Linked DNA regions of Homo sapiens. The protein of the gene in region 1 purifies or fractionates together with the protein of each later gene. This does not show direct contact. Each region holds a gene or a part of one and is shown in the gene's direction. Other genes may lie near its edges. The genes, in order: FAM222A, PBX3, MEIS1 and MAB21L1.

What was found.
Region 2: the proteins of FAM222A (region 1) and PBX3 purify together in Homo sapiens (affinity purification with mass spectrometry; 2 studies listed by BioGRID and IntAct, with this or other methods). This does not show direct contact.
Region 3: the proteins of FAM222A (region 1) and MEIS1 purify together in Homo sapiens (affinity purification with mass spectrometry; 2 studies listed by BioGRID and IntAct, with this or other methods). This does not show direct contact.
Region 4: the proteins of FAM222A (region 1) and MAB21L1 purify together in Homo sapiens (affinity purification with mass spectrometry; 2 studies listed by BioGRID and IntAct, with this or other methods). This does not show direct contact.

The regions. Positions count from the first base shown.
Region 1 is NC_000012.12:109,708,945-109,716,835, forward strand, and holds the start of FAM222A (protein FAM222A), read left to right. Parts: upstream 1-4,880; 5' UTR 4,881-5,953; intron 5,954-7,891.
Region 2 is NC_000009.12:125,960,373-125,967,393, forward strand, and holds the end of PBX3 (pre-B-cell leukemia transcription factor 3), read left to right. Parts: intron 1-311; coding exon 312-477; intron 478-1,729; coding exon 1,730-1,842; intron 1,843-2,639; coding exon 2,640-2,729; exon of another isoform or gene 2,730-2,803; intron 2,804-5,458; coding exon 5,459-5,551; 3' UTR 5,552-7,005; downstream 7,006-7,021. UniProt on the Homo sapiens protein: Transcriptional activator that binds the sequence 5'-ATCAATCAA-3'.
Region 3 is NC_000002.12:66,430,496-66,438,139, forward strand, and holds the start of MEIS1 (homeobox protein Meis1), read left to right. Parts: upstream 1-4,629; 5' UTR 4,630-5,361; coding exon 5,362-5,373; intron 5,374-7,241; coding exon 7,242-7,468; intron 7,469-7,644. UniProt on the Homo sapiens protein: Acts as a transcriptional regulator of PAX6. Acts as a transcriptional activator of PF4 in complex with PBX1 or PBX2. Required for hematopoiesis, megakaryocyte lineage development and vascular patterning.
Region 4 is NC_000013.11:35,473,670-35,480,689, reverse strand, and holds MAB21L1 (putative nucleotidyltransferase MAB21L1), read left to right. Parts: upstream 1-4,000; 5' UTR 4,001-4,551; coding exon 4,552-5,631; 3' UTR 5,632-6,901; downstream 6,902-7,020. UniProt on the Homo sapiens protein: Putative nucleotidyltransferase required for several aspects of embryonic development including normal development of the eye. It is unclear whether it displays nucleotidyltransferase activity in vivo. Binds single-stranded RNA (ssRNA).

The DNA.
Region 1 (7,891 bases):
AAGATCACACCACTGCACTCCAGCCTGTGCAACGAGTCTGTCTCAAAAAAAAAAAAAAAAAATAAGAAGAAAATAAATGTCATCCTGCAAGTGCTCAGAAAGCTGCCAACAGCAGTAAGCACTGACGAGAGGGAAAGCAAAACAAAAGGGAGGTGTTCTGGGGAAAATAACTTCAGATCGGGTAGTCAGGGAGGGCTTCCCCGAGGAGGTGACATTTAAGCTGAGACTGGAAGTATGAGAACAAACCAGAGAGCAAAAGGAAGAATGTTCCAGGCAGAAGGAACGGCTTGGGTCAAGGCCTTGAGGTGGGAAATAGTTTGGCACCTTCAAGTAACCAAGAGGAGACTAAAGTGGCCAGAAGGGAGTGAGGGTGGGATATAGTCAGGGAGATGGGCAGGGTTCGGTTCCTGAGGCCACTTGGACTTCTTCAGCCCTACACATAGCTCACCCCCTCCTCCTTGCCCCACTAGGCCTGCCCCAGAGAGAGACTCAGGTACTGGGGGGCGGGGCTGGGTGAATAACAAGGTTACATGTGTTTCTTCTTTCCCCGTTTCTCCAGGAGGAGCATAAAGAGCTCTTTCTTTTCTGCTTATTAATAGCTCTGATTAAATTATCTCTGAAAAACCTACGTGGCGTGCACCAATGGGGGCTGGGCTCCCTCCGGGCTCTGGCCTAGATCACAGCAATGAGGGCAGGTGAGGCAACTGGGGGTGGGGTGGGAGGCTGGAGCAGGCCTGCCCCCTCTGCCTGCATAAATGCCCCGTCTCTGCCTGCTCCCCTCTCCCCAGCCCCAGCTCAGCCTCTCACCCACCTCTGCTTTTGGGGCGTTCACATCTCCCTCACTTGGAACACTAGGCCTTTGCATTGGTTGTTCCCTCTTCCGGGGGCGCTCTTCCCTCACCTCTGCCCTTGGCTACCTCCTACCCATTTTTCCCAGGGTAGCTGACTTGCCTTTTTACCATCACTGGCCCTCCGCTGAGTCAGGTGCCTGCTTCGGACTGTCCCCTCTACTGGTACCCTGGATGACACCTGTTAGTTGCCTTCTCTGTGCCCCATGAAACCTGAGTTCCAAGAGGCCTATGTCTTGGTCTGAGTCACTGCTGAATTCCCAGTGTCAAGCACAGGGCAGGTACTTAGAAAATGTTGAATGAATGAGGGAATTAGCAGACTTAAAGGGGGAATGCTCAGGCTTCAGTGCGTGAGACCAGAGAAGGGCAAGGCAAAGATGGACCAGGTGGCTCACGTCTGTAATCCGAGTACTTTTGGAGGCCGAGGTGGGAGGATCACTTGAGCCCAGGAGTTTGAGACCATCCTGGGCAAAATAGCAAAAGCCCGTCTCTTCAACAAATTTAAAAATTAGTTGGGCATGGGGGCATGCACCTTGTAGTCCTAGCTACTCAGGAAGCTAAAGTGGGAGGATCACTTGAGCCCAGGAGTTCAAGGTTGCAGTGAACTATGATGGTGCCACTGCACTCCAGCCTGGTGACAGAGTGAGACTTTGTCTCTAAAAAACAAAAAAACAAAAAAACAGAGAAGAGCAAGACTAGCCTTACATACGTGGGAGGGTGGGAACAAAAGTTCCAGCCTCCAGGCCCCTTGAGTGATGCCTTGATTAATTGAAATGGCAATTAATCCCATTTCAAAGATGGGGGAAACTGAGGCACAGAGCGGCTGAGTCATATGGCTAGTAGCCCAGTCAGCCTGACTCTACTCCCTTCTCTTAATTCTCCTCCTCTACGTGAAAACAAAACAAAACAAAAACTTGGGCCACATTCATTCAGTGATTCAGAGATTAAGTCAACAGACCTTCATTGAGTGCTGACTCTATGTCAGGCCTGTGCTAGGGAATAAAATGAACTGAATGCAGCCTTTGCCCTGGAAAAGCCCTCAGGCCAGTGGGAAGCCTGACAAAGAAGTGGGCCATTATAACACACACTGGACACATCTGTGAAGGGGGAAGTGCTCCAGCCTGGAGCAGGGTAGTCAGGGAAGGCTTCCTGGAGGAGGCAGCACTTTGGCTGAACTCTGAAGGAGGAGCAAGAGTTAGCTACCTGGAGGGAGGGCATTCTAGGTAGAAGGAACAGCATAAGCAATGACCTGGAGGTGAGAGAGGCACGTGCAAGGATTTGTAGGTATTTCAGCAAGGTTGGTGTGTGGGAGGCAAACAAGAACAGTGAGAGATGAGATGCCCTCTGCCCCCTGCCCCCTCAGGGCCTGTCGGACCCCTGGCCAGAGCCAGTGTTCCGGGGCTGGCCTGCCTGGTGGTTTTATGGACCGTGGCAAATCCATCTTGACACTGTCTCCAATCACATAATGCAGTTATTGGAGTCGACCAAGAGCAAAGGCACGAGGGTCTGATCTCAGGGAGATGGGCATATGGGGTAGGGGGGCACTGGGAGTGTGGGGAGTGGGGCAGAGCATCTTACGGGGCATTCACCTGCCTGGAGGGGAGCGACAGGCATCTGGAAGGCTCTGACCTCTCCTGCTGGACAGCTGCCTTGGAGCCTGCTGCTGTCGGAAATTCCACCATGAGCACATCGTGGACTCATAGAACTTCAGAGATGGAGGGGTCTTTTGAGATCTTCTCGACCTGGGGTTGTCAGCCCTGGCTGTATCAGGAACCACATAGGAGCTTTGGAAACTGCTGTCCCACCAAGGAGAGTCTGATTGGTAGGGCTGGGGTTTGGGTCCTACCCTCCATTTCATGGCAGGGGAAACTGAGGTCCAGAGAAGAGAAGAAACTCCCCTCAAGGTTGCACACGGTCAGACAGTGGCTGCCACAAGGTGCAATAAATCAACGTCAGGGCTCTGGACTTTGGTTCTGTCATTTGTGTGACCTTGGGTAAGTCATGTGGCCTTCCTCTGCTGTAGGATGTGCATAGTGATCGTATATACCTTATAGGGTTTCTGCGAGGGTAAAAGGAGTTATGTGAGATAAATAGCAGTGAGCCCATGCCTGACACACAGTAGGTGTGAAGTCATGGTGACCTACAATGAAAAAAATCCCAAACTTTTGACAGGCTGTGGTGCGAACTGCTGCCTTCTTCTCCTCTTCGCGATCTCTCTCATTTCCCAGGGTTTGCTTGTTACTGTCCCTCGCCCTGTCCTCAGCTGAAGTCTGGTCTCCCCACCTGTCCACACGCTGGGTCCACCCATCCAGTCGCCCCGGCCGCCCTCCCTGACGTCCCCGCAGCCCTGGCTGCTGGCCCGAGCGGGAAGCAGCTGGAGGCATAACACATTTCCAGGTAAATCCCCACCCCCACCTTCAGCCTGGGGAGGGAAGGGGAGGAGATGGGGGCGGCCGCGGAGAAATAGAGCGGAGCTGCTGGGAACAGCGCGCCGAGCAGCCGCTTAGAGGCCTGAAACAGGGCCAGCTCCTGTCCTAGATAAGGCGGCGGGTGACCCACTTGGGCCGGCCCTGGAGGTCCGCCGCGGGCGCCTCTCCCGGCGGGGTGGGTTGGCTCCTGGAAGTAGGCTAGGGCCCGTCTATAATCAGCCCGTCCGCTGGATACGCTCCCCAGGGTCTCCAAAGCCCTCCAGCCCGGGTGAGTACAGAGGGCATTTATTGAGCACTTAATGTGTGTTTTGAGTCCTTTACATGCAAGAATTCATTTTGCCCTCAAATCTACGCTGTAAGGTAGGAATTATGATGCCCCCCATTTCACAGACAAGAAACTGAGGCGCAGACCCGTGAAGGTAAATGGCCAAGACCAACAACCAGCAAGGGCAGGGCTGCAATCCCACCCAGTTTCGGTGGGACTCCAGGTATCACACGGGCATAGCCTGAGGGGTGGGGGGTCTGACTGCTGCTCTGCATTTCTGTGGGGATCTTTGTTATTATCCCGGAAAGCTGGCTTCCTACAGTGCTGTGTGATGGACACACAGCAACTGAGGGAACTGCCCCACCCAGGACTCAATTTCCCCATCTGTAAATGAGACTGCTAGACGGGCCGCCCATGGGCTGTGAGAACCCAGGAAGCTTCTTTAAAAGTAAAAGGGAAAGCACAGTATAGTTTGATAGATTCATATTTGAACCCCAGGTTGATGTGAAACTATGCCTCAGTTTCCCTATCTATTAAGTGGGGGAGTAGGCTAGTGCCTGTCTCCTGTGGGCGTGGGGTACGTCTAGAAGGTGTAGCTTGCAAATTGCTCAGCGCTGTGCTGGGTTATATAGTTAGCGCTCCACAGATCACAACTGTGATGCCAAAAACACATCGCTGCCAAAAATAAGCCTTAGGACAAAAACATCCAGGACCATGTCACTTCACATCTCCTTACCTCAGTTTCCTCTGTAAGTTGGAAGTATAATAATAGTACCTACCGTATCAGTTTTCTCATCTGTAAAATGGGGGTGATAGTAATACCCACTCACACGGTGTTGTGAGGATTAGATAAAATACTTTGCTACATAAGTGTTAGCTATAGTTGTTATTTTTAACAAATTCCTCATGAGGTTGGTTTTTGCCAAGATTAAATGAAATAATGCCGATAATGCACTTATACAGTGCCTTGTCCCAAATATGTGATCAGTAAATGACACTGGTTTTGCCACCCCTAGTGGGACTACAAAAACCAGCACGCCCTGCGCCCCCAGTCGGGGCCCCTCCACCCGGCGCCGGCGCGCAGCATGCCGGGAGTTGCAGTCCTCGCGAGGCAAGTTCCGCCTCGTCCCTGCTTGGGGGAGGAGGTTGGAGAGCCGCCCTGCCGGCCTTTGAATTTTGCCGCGAAAAGCGCGCGTGGCGGCCCCCGGCTCCGCCCCTCGCAGGACGCGGTGCCGCGTCACCCTGGTAACCGCCTCTCAGCCGCCGCTGATTGGGCTGGGCCGCGGGGGGCGGGCGGGGGACGAGACGCGGGGGCTGCTGCCGGCGCTCGCGCCTGTCAGTCGGGCCAGAGCGGAGCAGCGGGCAGGACTGCCTGGCCGGCTGCTCCGCGGAGAGGCTGCGCGCGCCGGCCGGGGGAGGCGGACAGCCGGGCCCGGCGCCTGTGGGGCGCGGCGCGCGGCACCCGGGCCTGAGACCAGGCGAGGCGCCGGCGCGCGCCAGACGGCGCGAGGCTGCGGCCCCGGGAGCCCCCGCGCGCCGCCCGGGGCCATGGGCGCGTGAGAGCCCAGCGCGCGCGGCCCCTGCTGCGGCTTGCGAGCTCGCACACCCGGTGCACAGTCCCCCGGGCCGTCCTCGTGTCCGTCCTGCGCCACTGGGATCGGCTGTTTCTCAGCGCCGAGGCCCCCGAGGCTGCATCCGAGCTTGCGTCGCCCGCTGCCGCCGCCGCCGCCGCTGCCGCCGCCGCTGTTCGCCGGCTTCCCCTCCCCCCACACCCGGGGCTCAGAGCAGGAGGAGGAGGGGCCGGTGCATTCTCGCCGCTGTTCTTTGCAACCTGCAGGGGCCGGTGTATGTCCGGCGAGGAGCCGGGGCCGCTGCGGGTGCGTGCAACCCCCGAAGGAGACAATCCCTCCACCTCGGGGCGAACCCGGGGGCTGCAAGCCGCGGGCGGGCGGGCGAGCGAGAGGAAGCAACAAAGACAGGCTGCAGCTGGGGCTGGCGAAAGGGGCCGCGGCCGCCGGGCTCCCAGCGCGGGCGGAGAGGGCGCCCTGGGAGCGGCGCGGGCCGAGCTGCAGCCTTGAGCGGGGCCCCGAGGGGAGGCGCAGCGCCGCCCGCCGGACGTGGCGATCACGGGCCCCGGCGAAGATGCGTCGCCTGAGCGCCCGCGCGGCCCCCGTCCGGGGCGGGCGTGACCCCTGCTGAACGGAGACCTCCCCTCCCCCCCGACTTCGGACGGCGCAGGCCGGCGCCAGGATAGCCCTCACCGACAGCGCCCCTTCCCACCCGGAGAGAGGCATCGACCCCCAAGGAGGGCTTCGTCAGGCAGCCTCTGCCACTCCTGCATGGCTGCGACCCGTCGAGCGGAGCGTCGTGGTAGCTGAGACCTGGTGCCCTTCGACGGCCTGGCTGATCCGGTGAGTTGTGCGGGGCGGGGTTCTGCGCTGGAGCTGGGGGCACCCCCTGGCGTCCGGGCAGCCAGGATTGGACAGAAGGGGTCCTAGGCTGTTGGGGGTCCTGAAGCAGAGATAACCCTTGTCCGCCCCTTTCCTCCCTCCAAACACAACTTGTTCAGATGGGCCAGCCGATGGGAGTGGAGGTTGGGGGGCCCATTCGGATTCCGCGGGACCCTGGGCGGGTTGGTTGCCAGAGAGGAAAGGTCACCCCACCCGTAAAGCTAACAAAGGTATTGGCTGTGTCATCCGAAAATTCCCCGGGAACTCCAGTGTCTTGGAAGGGCTGGGGGGTGGGGGGCACCCAGGATGGGAAAACGTTGAGGGTCTCCCGAGCAGCCTCTGAGATCTTCAAGGGAAATCACCTCAGAGGGGGATTTGGGGTTCCAGAAACGCAGGTGGCCACGTTTGAGAATTGTGCCCCATGGGGCTAGACCTTAGAGCCCTCGTTCAAACCACGTTCCCACAAATAACTCGCAGGGACGGTAGGTTCCCCAGTGGGGGCACGACATGACGTCAAACCTTAGCCTCTGATGTCACTGGGGTTGCCGTGGCAACACCACTTGCCTTGACCCAAGGCCGGAGGGGGCGGGGTCGTGGTAACAAGGGGCGGGGCTGGATGCCTTTGGGTAGTGGAGGGGTGAAGGCGGACTCCCCCCACCCCTACCATTGCAGTCCTCTGACCTAAATCCTTAGCGCCCCATAAGGTGGGGGAGGGAGGCAGTGCCAGCTGTCCCTGTTGATGCTCCTCCCCGCAAGGACAGGTGTTCAGAGCTTTGCCCATGTAGCCTGGCCTGTGCCTCGGGGCTCAGGCCTCCCAGACAGAGCAACTTTCTGTTTTGAAAAGAGATGCTATAGAAGAGACCTCCCTGAACCCCACCATGTACCCAGCTGGCAGGCTGAAGTTCCCAGGGTCCCCAGAGAGATGTGGGCCTCCGGCCCTCCAATAGGCTACTTCTGCTGGGGAAAATGTGGGTGCCCCTCCCCCAGCCAAGGAAGGTGCAGAGGAGCTGCTGCCTGCTGCACCCCTAGTCCAGGGGCTCCCCATGCTGTTCTACCCCAAGGTCAGGGGCCTTGGCCAACCTGGAACTCCTGATTGCCCCCTGCTCCTTCTGGTGTTTAAGAGGATTTCAACGAGCATATTGTGAGGCTGCTTAAGTGAATGGCGGGCAAGTGAGGCCCATCAGTGCCAAGGTCTGAATAAACTGTGTCTCTGTCAGGGCACCCCCAACCAACACACACCCCAGTACTGGCACGCTTCCCTGCAAAGGCCCAGAGAACCCCCAGCAAGCATCCTGCTGCTGGCTCTGGGATTCGTCTAGGTCCCTTCCAGCAATTATTGCCAGTGTCGGGTGCTGGTGAAACTGCTGTGATCACATTTCTAGGAAAAGGTTCGAAAACTGTCATTGCCTCAGCAGCGTGGGGCGGGGTAAGAGCAGAGAAAGTGTGTGTTCGGGTCATTAGGAGAAGCCAGGCCCCAGTCTATGCAGCGAGCATTTTCCCTGCTCTTCTACCAAGCTCTCTAGCTAGATTAACAGGTCAATAAATATCGGTGGAGCTGCTTTTGGGGGCTTGGCAGGGAGATGGTATTTCCAGCTGAAATGGTGTCGTTAAACACACAAGCTTCCAAGGACAGAGGAGCAACAGCAGATTGGGGGAGAGCCGGGAGAGGTGGGCAGAAGGGCTGTTTGCGCTGCCTCTCGAAGCTTCCCAGTTTAGAAACAAACTCGGAGTGCGCGCCAGAGATTCACAAACACAGGCAGTTGGAGGCCCTCTGCCGAGTATTTACACTTCCACAGCCAAGGCAGAGGGAAAGGCTGTCAGAATTGGGCAATTCCTTCTGTTCCCTTCCCTCATCTCCCTGGGCTTGGCACTCAGCGTGCCAGACGATGAGCAGGAGGG
Region 2 (7,021 bases), on another chromosome or scaffold:
TTTGGGGGCCTGACTATTTATATACTAATCGGTATATAGCAGTTGGATATCTTTTATGAGCAGCGCTCCCTGCCGTTTTGGTATTACTGTGGCCAACTCTAAGAAAGCAGCGTTATTCCAAAAGAATGTGAGAGTTTTGCCAAAAGAGAAAATAACCCCCAAAACCATTATGCATGATCCATAGGATGTGAGGTTGCAGGCTAGGAATTGTGTGTCTCCCAAGGTATTGCCTTGGTGTCCAGCAGGTATTATTGGAATTTGATTACTTCTTCCTCTCTTCCCCTTCACCTCCATGTCCCTGCAATTTGTAGGTATCCAATTGGTTTGGCAACAAACGAATCAGGTACAAGAAGAACATTGGCAAGTTTCAGGAAGAAGCCAACCTCTATGCTGCAAAGACGGCCGTGACAGCTGCACACGCAGTAGCAGCAGCTGTGCAGAACAACCAGACCAATTCGCCCACCACACCAAATTCCGGTGCGTACTGGGGGCTCGCTCCCCAACTGGCCCAGGCAGCCTTATGCCACAATGCCCTGTCCCACAGGCCAGGAAACAAGAGCCATACTGAGGACAGAGTGGACTTAAAAAGGAAGATTTATGTTCAAATGCAGGCTTGTTCTTGAGATGGGTGAATGAGTGGAAGGTCAGAGCCTGTAAACCCACTCTTCACAGTGAATGCCACTCACTAGTAGATTATGGAAGTTTTACAATTAGTAGTGGCTTTCAGTTCAGTAATTAGGCAGAGTGCTATCGCTCATGACTATTTTAGCTATTTCTTTCCAGATACCACTTTAGGGTCAGTAGTGGTCTGTGGAGAGTGAAATAGCAGAAGTGGGAAATGCAGCAGTTGCTGTGTGTGAGGAAGCTGGAATGCTGGAGGGAAGTGCAGCAGTGCTTTCTGCCCAGCACCGCTGTCCTTTCTCTGCCTTTCAGCAGCACTGTCTGAGCGGGGCTGACGGCATGCTCAGCAGGTGGCTAGCTGTGAGGGTTATGGTGCTTAATACATGCATGCAAGATTCTTGGATCCTCGTCCGGTACATTTTGGCTGCATTTTATGTGACGTTTGTGAGGGGGTTAGAAATACTTTAAAATTTCAGGGAACTTGAATAACAATGAAAGATGTGCAGCTAGTCCAAACAGATGGACTTCAGTAGCAATTCCAGGGGCGTTTCTGAGAAGGTCTCTTAGCTATATCTTTAGAAGTTCAGAAAGTAGGGGGGTTTTTGTTTGTTTTGTCTTGTCTCCTCACCCCCCAGTTCTTTTTAATGGCACATAAAAACAGATGAAAGGAGAGGGAGGTATATGCATAGCGAAGAAAGAGCTCCTGGAAAAGTCTCTTCTCTGGGTGGCTGTCCACTGTGACAGCCATGTTGACAAGCTCGTGTAATGACTAAATCCTGGAGATGAGTGGAAACAAGGGGAAGGGTCCAGGCCAGCTGCTGGGTGTTTTGGTTTATTTTTTCTTTTTAATTTATTTTGATTTGTCTCTTTGTTTTTGCTTTTGTTTTTTAAGTTTGGGCTTCCCCACTGATGGGACTTCTCCTAGATGTGGAGTGACTCACAGGACCCAACTCTCTGGAGTTACTCTCCATCCTCTTAGATCTGGAAATGCTTTATGTTGTGCACAGCCTTTCCCTTCTGTACTTTTTCTCATCTCCCTGCCTCTAGGTCTTTGAGGATTATGTGTGTAGCTCTCTGTTATTCAGCTACTTAACTCTTTCCTTTCCAGGTTCTTCTGGTTCTTTTAACCTCCCAAATTCTGGGGACATGTTCATGAACATGCAGAGTCTGAATGGGGATTCTTACCAAGGGTCCCAAGTCGGAGCCAATGTGCAATCACAGGTAGGAGAAATGCCCCAGTGGGGCCTTTCTAGCAGGGTAGGGTTTGGGCTCAAAACTCCTTCCTCTGACCCCATGGAAGTGGTCTACACATCCATGCAGAACCTGTGCTGGGTGCTTCCAACCAGGACCCATCTGCCCCACCATTTAATTTAATGAGAAGTCAAGTGAACAGTGACTTGTGATGATTCAAACCTGATAAACTTTGTGAATGCATTCGGCTCTGGCTTGAGCTCATGGAGAGGGGTTGGGTGCATCTTACTTTTGTCACAAAATAGAACAGAAAAATTGAGTGTGCCAGTGTGTATATGGTTTAAGAACATGTTGCTGTTTCATTTCTCAAGTCAGAGTACAAAAACCTGAGTTCTTAAATTATAACTCTATAATTTCTACTCTTTTCTTGTCCTCTTATTTGAGAACAGAACTATTCATATAGTTTTTATACATCTAGATGTATGTGTATGAGACATAGAGAAAGTGAGAGAAAGAGAGTTGAGATAATTCCATATACACAATTCTAAGTAGGCTTTCACCCACAGCCACATCCATTTGGTTGCTGTAGATGGAAAGTTGCATTGCCATGAAGATGTTATTGTTTGGCTGGCATGAAAAACAAAGATTTGTGAGTTTAAATATGCAAAGAATGGTTGAAATTCTGCCAGTCACATTTGATTGATAAATTTGTCTTTCATTGAAGATGTTAAACCCTTGTGGCACACATAATTCAAATTATTTCCTTTTGTAAGTGATGACGTTTTAATAGATTTGGGATGATGAATTTTGTTTTGTCTCACTTCTAGGTGGATACCCTCCGTCATGTTATCAATCAGACGGGAGGCTACAGTGATGGCCTTGGAGGAAATTCACTGTACAGTCCACATAATTTAAATGTGAGTACTCTGGGGAGTCAGCTGTAGGAGAACAGTGTCAGGTAAACAGTGACTAATAAAGAAATTAATAGCCATTTGACCTGGCTTCTCATCTTCTTGGCAGGTAGGGAAGGCAGCGTCTTTGCTGCACTTTTATTTTAAGAACCTAAATGCTTGATGCCGTCTAGATACCCTTAGAAGTCCTCATAGATGCCCAGAAATGGCTGGTGTCCTGTCATCAGCAGGGACTTAAGCATCAGCCCATTAAGACGCCATTTCCTACCATCAGTGCTGTGCTCCAGGGAGACGGTAGAAAACAGGTCATTTATCTTAGAACCAGGCAGCGGGAAAAATTCCCAAACAGAACTCAGGTGAAGGTGGTAAGTTTGGAGAATCCCAGGCAGACCAGCAAACCAAGCTAAACAAATAATTGTGTTATTAAAAGCATCTTGCTGTATTGTCAATGTGGGATGCACAACATATTTGACAATTTTAATTATGGAGGAAATAATTTTAACTTTTGTAACTACTTCACTACAACTTTACCTTTCCCTCCACTGACATGGATGGAAAATGGCAAAACACACAGCTCTGGAAAAGGGGGAAGGGGGCAGGGGAGCAGGTCATCGTGGTGGTGCTGCGGGGTGTGGTGGATGGAGTCTGGGGTTCTAGACTTAGGAAGGAAATTAACTGCCCAGCTCACGGTAGTAGACTCAGGAAGAAAATGGGCAAAATTCTTCCTTTTTAGGGCCTTGGCTTGCTACGAGAGTAAATATTAATGATTTAAAAAGTGATTGAGGATGTTCAATTGTAAAGGGAAAAAAGGACCATTAAATACTCAAATCTTTTACATTTGAAATGTCAAATCTTTCTTTTTGGGCTTATAAATAACTCATAATAACCCACAACAAACCATATAAAAAGCCTTTTAGTTGCATTTCTCCTTTTTCATTTAAGTGTTTTGAAATGCTTCAGAGAATGTGCGATATCCTTATCAACATGATAAAATATGAAACTGTGATTGCCTGCAGCATTTTACAGACATGAATTCCATCTTCACTGATGAGGCTTGATAAGGCGCTGTTGTATAATACAGTGCATAATCTCAAACCACCAGAGTAAGGATTAATTTATTTTGAAAAAAAAGAATGCTTGCTGACAACCTCTCCTCCAGCTGCCATGCTGGGTAAAAATATTGTACATTTGTTGTTTATAAATTTGGATAAAAGAGGAATGATGTTTACTTCAGATGGAATATCTTTAGACTTGTATCTGTGTGAGAGTTTTTCTTTTCCTAAGTAGATTTTCATACCTGAGGGGGGAAACAGCTTACCTTTTAGAGAAGAGGATTTCTGAGAGTCCACCGAACACACATGGGCATGTCATTAGCCAACCTGGCAAAACAGAGGCTTTAAAACAATACCACCATAGCTTTTTTTTTTTTTTAAATACTGTTTCCTTTTGTTTTTCCTAACCTGAATTTGATATGCCTCAAGCCTGGAAAATCCTCTTCCCTTAGGGTCTGGTCATCTCTGTGGGGTTCTTAGGTCATAGAGGTAGAAAAGGTGCTTTGCATGCCAACTCTGCAGTGAATTAGAAGACAGGGAGTTCTCCAGGAACTGTGATCACAGAAGAAGAAACAATGGCTGCCACATGCTCATCTAGGAGCTGTATCTAGGCTGGGCAGGGAATCTAGACAAGAGTTCTCAGCAGCCTGGCAGCCCAGGCCTGAAAGAGGGCATTTTGGATGGACTTGCAGAGGAAGTTGCAAATAGATGTGAGGGAGGCAGGAGGCACCTTATGACCCACCCTGACATTGGTGTAGGAGGTCCGGGTCTGGGGGCAGCATGGCGGCAGAGGGTGGTTGGTGCTGCAGGCACGGGGAGCCTGCTCACCCTCACCTCCTCTCCAGAAAGGCCTGCCCCATCACTTCCACTCAGTGTTCCCCAACTCACGAGGCTGGCACCTCCCTCTTCCTGACTGACATAAAAATATGTAGCGACAAGCTGTCTGCCACAGCAGAAATCTGATCAGACATTGATTTCAGCAATTGCCACTATAGGCCAAGACATAAGGCAAATTTGTTTCTGAGTACGGTTATTGCTGCTGCAGGTCTGAGGCAGGAAGGGCCAGCAGCATGTGGAAGGTGGGAGCAACATCCCAAATAGGAGCCTCAGCCACAGATAATTGGAATACAGATTTTAACAGTGTGTGCTGCTCTGCGGCTCATGCATTTTCATTCTGGAAGATCCTATTTGGAGGGAAATTCTGGCCTTCACTTTCCAAGGGTTACAGTAGCTGGCTGTCAGGCGTGTATGGAAAAAGGGTGGGCAACTGCTTCTCTATGGAAATGATGATTAAGCCGGGGTGAAGTTTAGACTTCATGGAGCCCTGGGTTTCGCTGAGGCATTGCATTGAGCTTCTCCACTGCTCCCTTCTGAAGAGATTTCTTTTTGAGTCACTTTAGTTTTACCAGCAGATCAAAGGCCGAGCTCGATGCCAGCATGGGCCTCGCTGAAGCCCTTCTTCGGCGTGTTGATTTATTGCCAAGACTTTACTTGATGGGATGGATTTGTTTTACATGCATTTAATCCCACTTTAACACATGCTGCCAACTCCTGCCACAGTGGGTTTAGAAAATACATTTTGCTAATGCATCTCTGCTCTCATGTTGTCATCCGGGTGTTTTAAATTGGGGAGTAGAATTAATATGTAGACGTGCACCCGTTGAACTGTGTTTCTCCTTTCAGGCTAATGGAGGCTGGCAGGACGCAACAACTCCATCTTCTGTGACTTCTCCTACAGAAGGCCCAGGAAGTGTGCACTCGGATACCTCTAACTAATCTCTGGCCACACTTTTCCCTGAGCTACATGCCTTGATAAGTGCATTCAGAGCAATAGGAGGAAAAGGAAAGCGTTTTTGTAGCCCACCATCTACAGCTTTACTGTAAAACCTTGTCTTATTCGAGAACTTGGTAAATCTGTTTTTTAAGGAATCATAATCATTTGTATTTATACTTAAAAACACACAATGTTAAAAAAAATAAAGCACTTTATCCAATTAGGCCAAGATTTAACATTGTTGACAGTCCTGTAGCTATTTTATCATAATTTATTATCAATATTTTACATTAATGGTTTCACAGTTGCCAATTACTTGGCCTTAAGGGTAAAAAGTACAATATACACTAAACCTCAACCGTTAAAGCAGATGCAAAAATTCACCTCACCTAAATTGAACTTCTTGCATATTTCCATTACTGACTTGGATTGTCTTTCTTTCATATCACTAATGGAGTTGGAATAAAGAGCTGTTTGCCTATCCCTGTTAATGATGGTTGTGTTTAAGAATCTTCCTCGTCACGTTTGTGTTCAGATCTCTTATGTTATAATTAGATCAGAGACTGGTAGCATCGTTTCTCTCTCTGAAAGCACCAGTGCCCAGAGTCTGCTCGGTAATAAAATTATGGATCCAGATTGTTCTGAGAGACGAAGATACTTGCTGCTGATAGAGGTGAAAACGAGATTGATCCGTCTGGGGTTTTACGGTGTGCACTGGGTGCTGCACAGACTTGTCAAGGTTTGCTACGTCCTCTGGGCATCTGCAAAAGGCCCTGCTCTCTGGAGTGTTGTATATAGTGTAGCAAAAGAGTATTTATACATCCCACCAATCAAAACACAGCTTTATTACCTCATGCGAACTCATACAAACCAATAGAATTTCAACATGTTCTGTAGCTTAGAGTGCTCACTTACTACCTCTGAACAATACTCACGCTGTAGTTTGTCTCTTTCTTATCTTTTTGCATCTTGTAATTAACTCTTTGTTTCCCTTCATAAAATGTAATGTACATTGTAATCTTTTAAAAGAAAAATCAGGGTTGCACTTGCAACTTTTAAAAAACCGAGTGTGGAAACATTGGGTCTTAATTCAACACAGGATCGGTAAAACTGTTGTAAATACTGAGAAACATTTTGAATGTTCTTCATCTTATTACTAATCCATGCAAAAAAAAAAAAAAAAGCAGCGACTAATTGTGATGCATTCAGATTTCAGTATTCAGTACTGTATATTTCACCCTGTGTAATGGGGCCCCCTCTCCTTTCTCTCTTTTTGTATTGTATGCGATTCTGAAACTGATTGAGTCATGAAAATAATTTGTGGCGGTGATTCTAATGTATTAAAAACGTTTCGTGTTCCTTTCTAACTGGATTACACCCTGGATTGAAAAAGTCTTCCTCGTGGTAGTTATATGTAGTTTCAAACATGAATAAACTTTTTGCTTTCATGATTAAATTTTGATGCAGTTTCT
Region 3 (7,644 bases), on another chromosome or scaffold:
TATCACCTCCAGGCTCTTATCTCCAGCATTCCTCTATTATCTGTACTAGATTTCGAATCTATTTTCTTTAAACTATCTTTCCCTCCCTCCTCTTATTTCTGTTTTTTTGAAATGTCAATGCTAGTGAGGGGGAGAGATGCAGAGGATGAATGTTTTTGAAATACAAACGCCAAGCCTCCACACCACAGGACAACCTAAAAACCAATCACAGCATTTTAAGGGACATCTTAAAGTTTGGTGGCAAATGATAAACCCTTATCATTTTGTGAACACAGCTGCCAAACTCGATTGATTAACAGGCTTTTGTTTATTCTGGGCTGGCAAATACACACACGTTTTACCTTAAGAGGTGCCTCTTTAGTTTCTAAGGGTTTTGGAGCTGACTCATCAGTGTGACCTTTTGGGACAAAAGCCTAATTTAGGATATAGATCTTTCCAGAAGCACAATTCCTTATAGAACATAAAGTCAGGGGAGTTCTCCGAGACGACTTTACCAGCAGCTCAGAGGAGCACTGAGGGCTTGAAATGCCTCCATACAGGAGGGTGTAAACAATAGAGACCAAGGGCCCAGTCTGCCTCCTTTTGTCACCGTTCTCTATCTCTGGAAAGATGCTCTGAGATAAGAAGGATGAGAAGAGAACGGAAGGCCTGAATCGCAAGAGCTAGGGCCAAGTGCCAGAAGTTTTCACCAGGCCAAGTTTTTGCAAAATAAAAGTGCTATTGCCTTAAAAAAGCAAGTATCTGAAATAAGTTAGGAATAGGGGCTGTCAAAAAATGGGCATAAATATTGACAGTAGTTTACTAAGATACCTAGACCTGTCCCTTCATTTGTTTCCTTTTAATAGATGATTAATTGCTGCCCTGCTAAAGGAGTTTTTTTTTTTTTTATGGCTACTATATTGCAACTCTAGACATCCTCTGTGCAATTTCTCTCAGCAAGCCCCAACTGTAATAACTGTTTGCTAATTGTAAAATCCTTATCCAGAATGAGGTTTGGGCAAACAATTTGTACTACTGTAATTACATTGTAAAAGTGTTTAGTCCCTTGATTGTTCAGAATTAATTGTATAAAGGCCTAGAAGTTATATTAGGTTCACAGTTTAAAATGGAAAGACTGTGGGGGGGGGGAGGGGCACTTTTCAAAACTACTGAGTTGATTTTAAGTCCGCAAACTCAAACTATCTCATTCTTTAAGGAAAATTTGTGTGTAGGTAATTTAAAGTACATTTTTAAGGTAATCTGGCACATCATGGTTAAAGCATGCAGTCGTCTAGTCTTCCTCCTGCTTTGAAGATTTTGGTTATGTTTGCAAAGGGTGACTTACCTGAACCTTCTTTTCTCATCTGTGCTAGAAAACAAAAGAAAAAGATTACCGGAAAGCAACAATACAAAATAAATCCTGTTGTCAAATATATATATATATATATATACTGACCTTTTCCAAATTTGAAAACGTGGCCGCAGAGTTGTGGTAAATCCAAGCCCCGTTACCTCTTTGCCGAAGAACCCCTGAGGCTGTTAAAGACCACAGTCCTCTAAGCGTATTTCGCAATAAATTTCTCTCAGTTAAATTATACTTACACAATTTCCCTCGCAGTTCATTTAAGGATCATAAACGTAGGTGTGCCCTGTCGGTGTTTGGTTTGACCCCCACCTCCCACCCACGCATCTCCCTCCTACCCCCGAGTCGCGCAGATGCCTGGCGGGCCTGATGCGGGGACGATGATCACACCCCCGCGAGCAGCCATCGGAAGGCGCTCAGGTATACCCCGAAGTCGGCTGGGGTTCCGGGAAGGGGTCGCAGACTGCCGGCCCAGCTTAGTCCTTTCCCTAATCGGAAAAGGAGCGTGCTGCCTGGCCCAGCCAGCGCAGCCTCCCAAGGATTAAACAGAAATCGCCTTCCTGAGACGGGGAGGTTCCATCTTGGCCTGAAATTCTGCTTCCAAGTTCATGTTGTGGGGCCGGGGAGCGACGGTGAGGCGTGGGGTGGGGGGGTGGGGGGATGGGGGGAGGCCGGGAAGTGTAGGCAGAGGCATAAAGGCGCTGGTAATGCACCTGGCTGCCCACCCACTCCGTCCCCAGCTTTTACTCGCGGGCCTGTCTTAACCTCCCAAGTGATGTTTCAGGGCGTTTGTACCAGAAAACCTACACATGTATGTGATGGAAAAAAACTAAAAGATCCTGAAACTTAAGCGTCAGAAAAAAGACAGGGAGAAACAGAGAGAAAAAGGAGAGAGGAAGCAAATGATAAGGGATCCTGGAGATGGTTTAAACACACACACACACACACACACACACACACACACACACACACACACACACACACGAGGGAGAGCTCTTTCAAGGCAAAGCGCTTCTGAAGGTTTTGGGAGAACGTGTGTCAGCCCTTCAGGCACACAGGGTGCCAGTACGGAGTTGGGGGCGGGGAAGGGTGCAGTGCAGGCGGCTGGGAAGGCTCATCTGCTCGGCTTTATGGAAACGCTCCACTGTTGGGGGCAACCAACCCCGCGTTGACTCCTGCGAAGTGCTAAAGGAAGCGATAGATGTCGCCTAAGGAGACTACGGACGCTCGGTGGAACCTCATTCCAGACCTATGTTCTCATGCTCGCCCTGTGTCTCCTGCTCCTCGGAAGCCCACTCTATAGAATCTTCAGTCCTACCTCGCAGACGGACGCAAATTATCTTTTACTTTGCGCTTAAGAGTTGGCTTCAATACATTTTAGAGCTCCTAACCTTTCCCAAACAATCTTCGGATGAAGGGATACCCCCAATCTTGCTCAAAACTCTTTCCCTACCTACACCCCCTTGAGGGTGAGGGTTCAGTCCGCAGCTGGCGAGTGGGACGTGGGTGGGGGCGATGGAGGCGCGGGCGGGCTGCTTGGAGGGAGTCAGCCTTTTGGCCACCTTCAGGGCGGGAATAGGGACTGGCAGTTCGCATTCCCCGCAGATCGAAGCTCCCTGCTGATCGATTATTTGATAATTGATTTTCCCCGCAGCCAATGCGCGGCGGCCTGGGCGGGGGCGCCTCCTGATTGGCCGAGCACTCCTCCACGGCTGCCTACCGAGATTTGGGTGAGCTCATTTTCCAGTCGACCGCAGGGGGAGTTTTCTGCGAGGTTTCAGCTGGAGGGAGGGGGAAAAATCCTCTCGGAGCCGAGCGAGCTGCGAGCCCTGCTTGTGGATGTGAGGTTTCCAGCCACTGGTAGAGCTGCTGCGGCTGAGCCATCTCGGCAGATCAGAGCCCAGCGGACAGAAATATAAATACGAAAATAACGCCACTAAATATAATCACAAGGGAGAAGCTTAGAGCGGGAGAATAAAGAGAAGGGGTGAGGGGGAATTAAAGCCCAGGCAATAGGTGTTAAAGTTAAAAACAAAACAAAACAAAAAACAGTGGTTGGTTGGAGCCTCCGAGTTGTAGGTACAGGCAGCTTTTGTCTGAAATCTCAGCTTCCGAAGCGGATTTCTTTTTCTCTGGCACTGGGAGGTTTCGCCGAGCCGGGTTGGGGACGGGAAAGAGGAGCGCGGGGAAGGATGTCTGGGGTGGTGAGGGCAGGGCTTCGCTGGAGAAAGAGCTAGTGGGGCGCGAGGTTCTTACAGGCCCGGGAGAGGTCGAGGCTGGAGCCCCTCGGCGCCTCTAAGACAAAGGCAGCGGTGGCTGCAGCCGGAGCCTAGCACTCCGGCAGCGTCGCGCCGCGCCGCGCCGCGCCCTGGGCGCACGGCCGCCTCACCCCGAGCGGGTCGGAGAAAGAGCCTCCCTCCCAGCGGCTCCCCGGCCCCGGCTCCGCCCGCGAGGTCTGGGCTGCTGCGAGCCCGCGCCGGGTTTCGCTTTCCGACGATCATAAATAGCTTGGTGTTTGTAAACAGGCGCTGGGGGCACATTCCCCGCGCTCAGCTCATTGTTCCCTCCCTTCCTCTCTACTTCGCGCAGGACGCCTGGGCTGGGGCTGGGAGCCGCCGGGGCTAGGAGGTGGGGGAGTCCAGACCCGAAGTGACAAAATGCTAGCATTTTCTTTCCCCCGGCCGGGCGTCCACCTCTAACAGCAAAGAAACCTCTAAGCTGGGTCTGCAGAAAGCCCGAGCCACCTCAACCCCATGTTCTCAGGACTCCTTAGCAGAGGCTTTCCCAACCTGGCTTCTCCCTCCTTTTCCTCCACGATCCCGCTTTGACTTTTCTCCTTGCAGTGTTTAGTTCTGAGAATTCAGTACTTTGCGCATCACCCCCTGCCCCGAAAAACACTGGCAGACCCCAATAATTTCGAGGAAAGTCATGAAGTCTATGCGCGGAGCCCTGTGCAAAATAACTCCCGCTGCTGCCTGCCCGGCGTTGATTCCCAATTTATTTCAAGAGAGTCGGCTTTGGGGAGAGAGTCTGCAGGGGGAGGGAGAGAAAAGAATACTGAAAATAAAGCTGGCGGCCGCGGGCTACTGCCTGCGTTTGTGTGCGTGTGCCCTGGGTGTGTGGTGTTTGTGCCTGGGCGTGCGATTTAATGGAGCGCCTCTCTGCCTCTCCAGTGCGGCCAGAGCTCGCTTCGCGCACCCACCCCTGCCGAGGAGCCTACTTGCTGCAGCCCAATGCATTGTGTAAGACGCGACCTGTTATGGCCACCACTACTTCCGGGTTCTAGCATTCTGGTCGGAATCCACCTCTCCGCCTGTGCAACACACACTTTACACACGCACGGGGACTGCAAGCGGGCAGCATCGATCGTGGCTCCTTTAAGACAAACTCAGACAGACATTTTTTTTAACCCTCCTTCTCTAATCTCCTTCCAGTGCAGCACTTGCAAAGAGGGAGAGAGAGGGAGAGAAAGAAAGAGAGAGAGAGAAGAGAGAAACTGATTAGGAATTAGGACTGATTCAAGGGAAGCGAGCGCTAGGGCTTTGTGCATTTGAATATTAACATTTGAGGTGTTCTGACCAGAAGAAGACAGAGCGGATGATCATTCATTCACCACGTTGACAACCTCGCCTGTGATTGACAGCTGGAGTGGCAGAAAGCCATGAGATTTGGTAGTTGGGTCTGAGGGGCGCTCTTTTTTTTCCTTTTCTTTCTTTCTTTCTTTTTTTTTTTTTAAACTGATTTTTGGGGGAGAGAAGATCTGCTTTTTTTTGCCCCCGCTGCTGTCTTGGAAACGGAGCGCTTTTATGCTCAGTGACTCGGGCGCTTTGCTTCAGGTCCCGTAGACCGAAGATCTGGGACCAGTAGCTCACGTTGCTGGAGACGTTAAGGGATTTTTCGTCGTGCTTTTTTTTTTTTTTTTTTTTTTTTCCGGGGGAGTTTGAATATTTGTTTCTTTTCACACTGGCCTTAAAGAGGATATATTAGAAGTTGAAGTAGGAAGGGAGCCAGAGAGGCCGATGGCGCAAAGGGTACGTATTAAAAAACAATTGTGGAACTCAAATGTGAGATTAAATTGAAACGTGGCCGAAAGACACTGCTAAAAAGTTTCCTTTTTTTCTCTCTCTCTTTTAAAAAATGAGGCTCCTAAAGCCGTGGCCTAAGCGAGAGGATTTATTCAATGCATTTGTAGACTTATGTATGTTACTTGGAGTTGTTAATTAAAGGAATCTATTTATCTATAGATTCCTAACCAGCAGCTATATAAATAAAAATGCAAGCTCAAACAATCATCTGGGTTTTTTTTTAAAAAAGCTAGATACCTAAAGCTGTAATTTGAACATTCAGAGATCAGAAGTTTAAAGTTATGTTTAAACTAAAATATGCAGCTGGAAACTTCTGATATGTTATTGATTATGCTCATCTTTAATATCACTAGAAGTATTCAGCTTTTTAAAGGAAATAACTTTGTCATAGTATAGCCAATTTTTTGGTCAGAAAACATTCATCTTTTTATAGTAATTTCAATTTGTATAGACTTGTATACAAGGCAATATTTTGCAAGTTTCTCTTAGATAAGCCCTCTACTAATTGAATACTAAGCACACAGTTACTCACTTTAAAAATGCAATACTAATTTCCCCATATTCCTTTTTCAATGGAAATGCAGTGAGAGTAAAGTGAGACAATGACAACCCAACTGAGGTAGTTTCTTAAAAGAAAGGGGGTCTACAAAAAGCCTTCCTTGCATAATTTGTGTCCTGGCCCTCAAAGCCCTGTTTGCAAAAGAAAGTTACTAGGCTGACACAGTTTTCTTTACTCCTTTGGTTCAGGCAAATGTCAGCGTTCTTCCAAACTCTTTTCACACCTCTGGCTTTAAGGAGATGAAAGTGGCAATTCCTCCTTTCTTTGAAAATCATTTCACTCTCAGCGCCTCCAAATCTTGGGAAAATAACTGCCTGGAATGAACCAATTAGAAAAACCTAAATAGCTAAATTTCACACACACAAAATAATGACAATCAATATGAAAGTAGTTTTTTTTTTTTTTTTCTGGAAGAGGAAGATGGAAAGTTGTGCATTTGCTTTTGAATTTGCTTTAAACCTGGTGAGTAACATTTGCCTCCTTGACTTCTAGTCTGGAAACAAAGTTCATAAGAGTAAATAAGAAAATAGAATATTAGCTGCTTCAACTATAGATTTTCTTTAACTTTGGGGGTGGGGAATTGCCCAATTCTAAATTCAGCTCTGATGTTCAGGAAAAGCTACCCTCCTTTGAGTTTCACTTATAAGGGGTCAGTTAGTTTTGTATAATTTAGCAGAGTTTGTCTTGGAAAGCAAAAGAAATGCAGTGTCTTGTAGGACTGCCTAACCTCACGCTGGCAGGGAAATAAAATGAGAAGCCTGTCTAAATTCACGTGCTTTGCGTAGCTGTTCCCATCGTAACTTTTTTTTTTTTTTTTAATTCCCCCTGATGTGAAGGGGCTGTGAAACTAGGCGGGTTTGCTGCAGTGTCCTGGCACGTTTTATTATTGTGATTTTGAATTTCTTCCTCCAGAGACATGCCCGTTTCACCTTCTACCCTCGGGAGAATGCTTCTCTTTCTCTCTTTCTTTCTTCTTTCCTTCTTGCCAAAGGAGCCTGAATTTCTAAACTAGTTGATAGGGACACAAGTTAGGGCAAGATCATTCATCCCAGACGAGTCTCGCTGAGAATTCTGTATTTTTTACTTAAAGCTTTAATTTTAAAATAAGAAAAACTCAGCTTTATAGATGCAAGGCCACCGAATTCCGGGTGGAAGGACCCAGCTGTATTGACCTTATATAAGCTCGGTGCCTTGCCGTTCTCCCATTTGCCCGCCTGGCCTCCTGAACCTTCTTTCTCTCCTGTTTGTCATGCAGTACGACGATCTACCCCATTACGGGGGCATGGATGGAGTAGGCATCCCCTCCACGATGTATGGGGACCCGCATGCAGCCAGGTCCATGCAGCCGGTCCACCACCTGAACCACGGGCCTCCTCTGCACTCGCATCAGTACCCGCACACAGCTCATACCAACGCCATGGCCCCCAGCATGGGCTCCTCTGTCAATGACGCTTTAAAGAGAGATAAAGATGCCATTTATGGGTAGGTACAATGGGCAGCAGGTTAAGTAGTTGAGACTCAACGCTTCCCTCTTTCTCTGTGCCCTTGGTAAGAGGAAAGTCAGAGTTCTCTGGATTGGAGGTACATCTTTGGTGACTTTTCATTCACATTTCATGGATAATTTGGGGAGGTGGCCTGCCATCCCTGAAGCCCTACAT
Region 4 (7,020 bases), on another chromosome or scaffold:
CATTTAAAAAAAAAGAAGGGGGAAAGAAATCAGATGGCTACAATGAGCCTTCAAAGCCACTCCAGCAGTAGGGATAAATAATGTAATAAACTCAACTTCATATTCTTTTTATCTCCCCAGCGTAATAAGCACATATTAAAAAAATAAAACTTTAAATTCATTAATACTTGTGAATAGACTAGCAGCTAGCAGATAATGAAAAAACACCAAACAATATCTATATAAGCACTTAACATGTATGTGCATATCCTTTAACAGATACCTTTTTTCCAGATGAAAGGTTACAATTACTGAGATTTGTGAACATGCAATTCAAATTTAAATCAGGTTTTTTTCGAAAACAAAGAAATATTGCATTCTTGTATTTCTCAACATAACAGGGTTTTTCTTTAAGCTTAATAATGACACTATTTATGAATTACTTTGTATATCCCATATAAGTAAGCAGGTCTGCAGAAGTGGAGACAAGTTATTTAGGAAATACTACTTGAGGCAAAGTTGTTTTGCCACTGTTATTTCGAACGCTTCGAAGTGTTAAGGATCACAATATTTAATTATTTTATATTCACTAATACTACTAACATTTATGATAATGGTGTGCTATGTCCTTATTGCTTTTTTTTTTTTTTTTCCTAACTGGTACATTTTAAATCGAGCCTGCCTCATAAACTAAGTAAATGCAATGTAAAAGTCAGTTAGGCATTAAAATTCTAAATACCATTCAATATAAGCATTTCAAACTATCATTAAATCATGAGATTCTTGAGATTTTTTTCCTTCAATTAGGCCAGTTTTCCTCAATTATCATTCTATTATTAGCTCATGTCAAAGATGTCTGCATGCCTACCACTGAAAACAATTAAGTATTTACATCCTAAAGCATGACACACACACAATTTTATTCTAGTAGCACTGAGTATATTTACAACAAAAAATATTGCAAGACTGGTATAACTGGAGTTTTTTAAAAAAACTTTTCACATTAATACATAAATGTATATTAAGCCATCTCTATGTACTACATAATCATTTGACATAACTAGTTTAATAGGTCAAATGATATTTTTTTAAAATTCACTGAAAAATAGTTAAATATATTACTCCCATAAAATAAATATATCCCCCAAGCCTAGATTAAAATCGGCTGAACTGCACAAAAATGTACTGTTATTTGCAATCCCTCTCTATAGGTCATTTCCATAAAAAAATTTCGGGGATGGAAAACACGCTTCTCCGAATAGCTTAATTCTCGCTTCAACAATGAGGGGCGTCTACGATCACTGAAAGGATTCAGCTACAGAAGGCAATTCATTTCACGTGTTCAGTGTAATAGAAAATCACTGTGTTGCAGCAACAAGCAGTACTTGCACTAGAGTATTATTCATTCCAGGGCGCCCAGTTCACCCACAGTGATAATCGCGGACCGGTGAATCCTATGTTATGTAAATCACCTTCAGCTCCTTGTGTGAGGGGTGCTTAAGGAAGCAGCTTAGAAAACACAGTCCTGGCGTCCTTTAAACTAAATGACTTCACTTTCCTGAACACTCTAGATCTAATGAGTTTCCTAGTATACCTTTTCTCACCATCCATTTTTCTTTCTCAAAGTGCAAATCGTTAGTGAAAAGGCGCTGGTTGCACCAATTAGTTTGCACAAAGTGCTTCGGTGTTTAGCTTCGCTTTAACCCAATTAAGCTGCACAGTGAGCCCCGAAGATGCGCCACCTGCGCGCCTGGCTCCAGCCAGGCCCGACCGGCATCCCTCGCAGGCCCGCGTCCTTCCCGTTGGACCCACTTAAGGTCCCCCGAACAGCCCTGGGGCCTCCCCGTCCTCGGCTGTCTCACGTCCTTGACAACCAAGGGTGTTCTGCAGGTGGCCCAAGAAGGCAAGGGGCGAGGTCTTGGGGCAAGCATCTCTGGCCTGAACCCAAGGGAGAGAGCGCAGGGCGCAGGGGCCCGCGGCTGGGGCTTGGCTGCGACCACACCTGGGCCGGACGTGGGCGGTGCAGGCTGAGGGGTGCGTGGGCAGACCGTGGTCTGGAGCAGACGTGGAGAGTAAGCCGGGACACCAAGTAAGGTTTTCAAATAAGCTCACGCAGAAATAAAGCGTAGCGATCTTGAGCCCAGAGAGGAAAGTAAGAGGGCACGGGAATGCGGAGCAGCGAGAGAGAGGCGGCGAGCGGACGGCACAGGGCCACACGCGCCGGGTGAGGGCAGAAGGCGGCGTTTCCCCAGAGACCACTGCACATCCTCGCCGTCGTGGCTGCAGGTTCTCCGGCTCTGATGGGTCTCCCCTCCAACTGCCAAAAGGTAGTGGTGCATTCACCCGCGATGACGGCAAAGTGGGGAGGGGTTTTTTGGGTGTTCCCAGACCCTGCTCTTAAGGGGATGGAAGGTTCTTGGGAAATAGAGTAGCTGGGTGCCACGCACCCCAATGTATACTATTTTCAGCTAAATTGGAATCTATCACTGTTGGATAAGGAGAAATTAAATAATAGGTGGTTTTGTGATGCTGTGCCTGTGCAAAACAAAACACACAAACAAAAATCAAAAGCTTAAGTAGCAAGTGGGAGCCCTGAAGAATATCTTGTTAAAAGTGACTCTGAAAGTGTCTACAAACATGTTACCGGGAGTTATAGGATTTGACGGGAAATATTCTTAATTGGAAAGACGTGGCATCTAAATTAAAGGTAGACAATTAAAAAAATCCACCTAGTTTTAAAAACCACAACGTAACCACTAAGTAGTATTTCTTTAGTTTCCTGTACTTTGAGGACACAACTGGACCACCAACTAGAAAAAAAAATTCCTCCTCCTGTTTCCAGGTTCCAAAATTCAGAAATGAAATGATTTATTTCATTTTTGTTTTCAAAATGATGTTTAAATCCAAAAAACCCCCCAGATAACTGCAAGTTAATTTTCTTTGCAAATGTTAACCATTTTCCCTTAATTAAATCACACGAAATAGTATAAAATTAGAAGTCTACTGCCAGGTCACCACTTAAGGACACTTAAGACAGGAGATATATCCTTAATTATACATCTGTAAACAAGCCAGATACCCCAAACCTTCAATTTTTCGGGATAGTTATCTGTGAGGAAGCTTGATCTCTATGATCTCACCTGAATTTTATGTACTAAAATACAGGTCACTATGAAATAACGCTAAAGTACTCTGTCCATCCCACAGACAATTTATTTTTCAAATGTTTCTATAAGTGCATATATAGCGTTGTGTCCTGCTTGTAATGCTGGGCAAGTCCACCAAAGTGCAAAGACTGCATCTGCTGGGGCAGAGGGATGTACGAAATATTTTTTAAATATCCTAACTTAAACAGGGGTAGAACATCTCACACACTCAGCAATAATTTTCAGATTCAACAAATGGAGAAAAGAAAAAAACATAAGTAAAAAAAGAGCATACTACCTCCATAACGTTTCAAAAAATCATTTTAACATATAGGAACATCCAGAATGAGAAAATTACACAGGTACTCCTCCATCTAAAGCCAACTTCCATATGCCAGTAGTCTGCATGAAAGAACAAACTTTCAACCTGCATTTAAGAAGACCCCAAGGATTAACAGACGTTAATTATCTTACTCTAAATGCAAGTTAGTGATTTTGTTTTAGAAAACCCCGTCAAGATCACTAATTGATGGATGCCCATTAATACACCTGTATTTGCATTTCAGCGGTAAAAGACAAGCAGGTTTTCGGCACAGAAGAGAGCCGCTTTGCCAAGTCTTTTCAAAACGTCAATATGCTTCAAGTAATACCAAAGCTGAGAGATTCCTCTTGATTTCCAAACTGTCTAGGTGGCCTGAGTGGTTTTCCGCCGGCAGCAGCCTCCTACCTTTAGTTTGTGTGCCTATATCCATGAGTGGGGATTAATTAGCCGGGTTGGAGCTGAAGGAGGCTGTCGTGACGAGCCCAGTGGCGATTGGCCGCCCGCCTGCCTGGCCCTGCCTTTATAATTTCCACACGAGTGCATCTGGGCTCTTAGACAAACCAACAGCAGCTTCTTCTGACATATACACACGCACACTCACCCCGGACACACACTCAGCACACTTTTCCTCCATTTGATTAACAGTGCTGCACACACAATGATTACGGGAAAGCGCAAATAAATACGGAAAGGGGTGCTTATTTTGACTACTGGAAGAGCTTTGCTGGGTCTCAGCGCAACTTTTGTTTTTTATTCCTGAGAAGGTGATCTCTCCATGCGGTTCTCTCACACAAGGATTCTTTAAAAGAGGAAGAGAGACAAGCAGAGGGGGGAGGACAGTCTTTCACTTTAAGAACGGCTGGGCTCAAAGATAAAAGGAAGGGAAAAGCAGCAGCAGCAGCAGCAGCAGCAGCAGCAGCAGCAGCAGCAGCAGCAGCAGCAGCAGGGAAACCAACGCTGCAGCACTTCCGAAAGGCATTTTTGATCCATTTCTGAGTGTTGCGGCCCGTTTCTCCACCGAAGTTGGCTCCAGCTCTAGCAGCCGCATTGGATCCCACAGCTTACTGCGAGACTCCGGTGTACAATCCGGATCTCTGCCCCAACATGATTGCGGCCCAGGCCAAGCTGGTCTACCATCTGAATAAATACTACAACGAAAAATGCCAAGCCAGGAAAGCTGCCATTGCCAAAACTATCCGGGAAGTCTGCAAAGTAGTTTCCGACGTACTGAAGGAAGTGGAAGTGCAGGAGCCGCGGTTCATCAGCTCTCTCAACGAGATGGACAATCGCTACGAGGGCCTCGAGGTCATCTCCCCCACCGAATTTGAAGTGGTGCTTTATCTCAACCAAATGGGGGTGTTCAACTTCGTGGACGATGGCTCACTGCCCGGCTGCGCGGTGCTGAAGTTGAGCGACGGGCGCAAGAGGAGCATGTCCCTCTGGGTGGAATTCATTACCGCCTCCGGCTACCTCTCGGCGCGCAAAATCCGGTCCAGGTTTCAGACGCTGGTGGCTCAAGCGGTAGACAAATGTAGCTACCGGGATGTGGTAAAGATGGTGGCAGACACCAGCGAAGTGAAACTGAGAATCCGAGATAGGTACGTGGTGCAGATCACGCCGGCCTTTAAATGCACCGGGATCTGGCCGAGGAGTGCTGCCCACTGGCCACTTCCCCACATCCCCTGGCCGGGACCCAACCGGGTGGCGGAGGTCAAGGCGGAAGGTTTCAATCTCTTGTCCAAGGAGTGCCACTCCTTGGCCGGCAAGCAGAGCTCGGCGGAGAGCGACGCCTGGGTGCTGCAGTTCGCGGAGGCAGAGAACAGACTGCAGATGGGGGGCTGCAGAAAGAAGTGCCTCTCCATCCTCAAAACCTTAAGGGATCGTCACCTTGAACTGCCGGGCCAGCCCTTGAACAATTACCATATGAAGACTCTGGTTTCCTACGAGTGTGAAAAGCATCCCCGAGAGTCGGACTGGGACGAGTCTTGCCTGGGTGATCGGCTGAACGGGATTTTGCTGCAACTTATCTCCTGCCTGCAGTGCCGGCGGTGTCCCCACTACTTTCTACCGAACTTAGATCTGTTTCAAGGCAAACCTCACTCAGCTCTGGAAAACGCTGCCAAACAAACGTGGCGACTGGCAAGAGAGATCCTGACCAACCCGAAAAGTTTGGAAAAACTTTAGAGGATGATTTAATCAAGAGCCGAAATTATTACCCTTCTCAAAGTCCTTATTAAGTGTAAACTTCTGTTCAATTCCTAATATTCCACTCCGCAGTGCAAACAATCTCTTCCTTTAAAAAGGAATAATAATACAATATTTAAACATCATCTCACCCACCCCCACAAGGGGAGAAAAAGTAGGGGAAGCGGATGGAGAAAAACCCAAAGCCACTAGTATTAGAAGACTTCTTTCCACACGATTTCCTATCTCCCTTGAAAAGTACACCGTAACACTCCGTAAACAGCCCAGCTGTAACGCCAGACCGAGACGAACACTCTGCCTAACTATCAAAGGATTATAGCAATCCTGGTGATTTAGGTGCATCTGTCTGTGAGTAAACACGATTTGGATATGCCATCTGAAAGAAACTGTAATGTATATTTTGATTTGTAACAAATATTGTGATCTCACATTGTCTTTGAAAGTGTGGATGTTGGTGTTTTGTGATTTGGTGAACAGAACTTAAATTGCCATTCTGGATACTTCCAGACATTTTCCACTAACAAAGATATCATTTAAAGGTAGATTTCTTCCTGGTACTTTTATCTGTCTTTGAAAGTGTCTGAACTTTAAAAAGTTTACATTTTGTTTCAAATATTGCTTGTTCTATTTCTAACATTCCATAAATATACTTGAAATGTTATTTAAATATATTCAAAGAAATTTGAATTCAGCTTATATAATAACGCTTGAATATCTGAATTATATATTTGAAAAATGCACTTGAAATACACTGGATAATTACTTTTGTGATTTAGATTTTAATTTGTTGCTGGTTTTTATTTAATTAGATGGTAATAAATGAAGTAAAATAAAAGTTGTTGTGTCTCACTTTAAATTGTTTCCTATCACAAGATGTAATGATGCATTTTGAAAATCAAACCCACTTGAATATCTTAAATATTTTGAGAAATATGCTAATGAAATCCTTAAAAATAAAACATTGGAGAAAAGCTCTTTCTGTATAGGTCCATAAGATAACAATCTACTCTCAGTCTCTAACTTACTTGTAAGACAATTCCTTTCTACAACAGAAACAATTTAAATCTACCTTTGAAAGCTTGCTCTTCTTGTAGCATTTTTGATAATATAAGAAAAAAAGTCTATCATGACAGTAGAGATGACTGAGTTAAAAATCTGACTAATTCAGAGGAAATGAACTTAACAAAGTCATAATGAAACTTCGAAAATTATGTATGAAAACTAATAAAACGATCCTTTCTGACCAATATATTTTATGTCAAACCTTATTTTATGTAATAAGGGTTCCATTAGCAGAATAAATTCATTAGAAATTCAACATTTCTTTTTGACTTCATAGGGCAAGCTAATAAAAGGATGAACACAAAA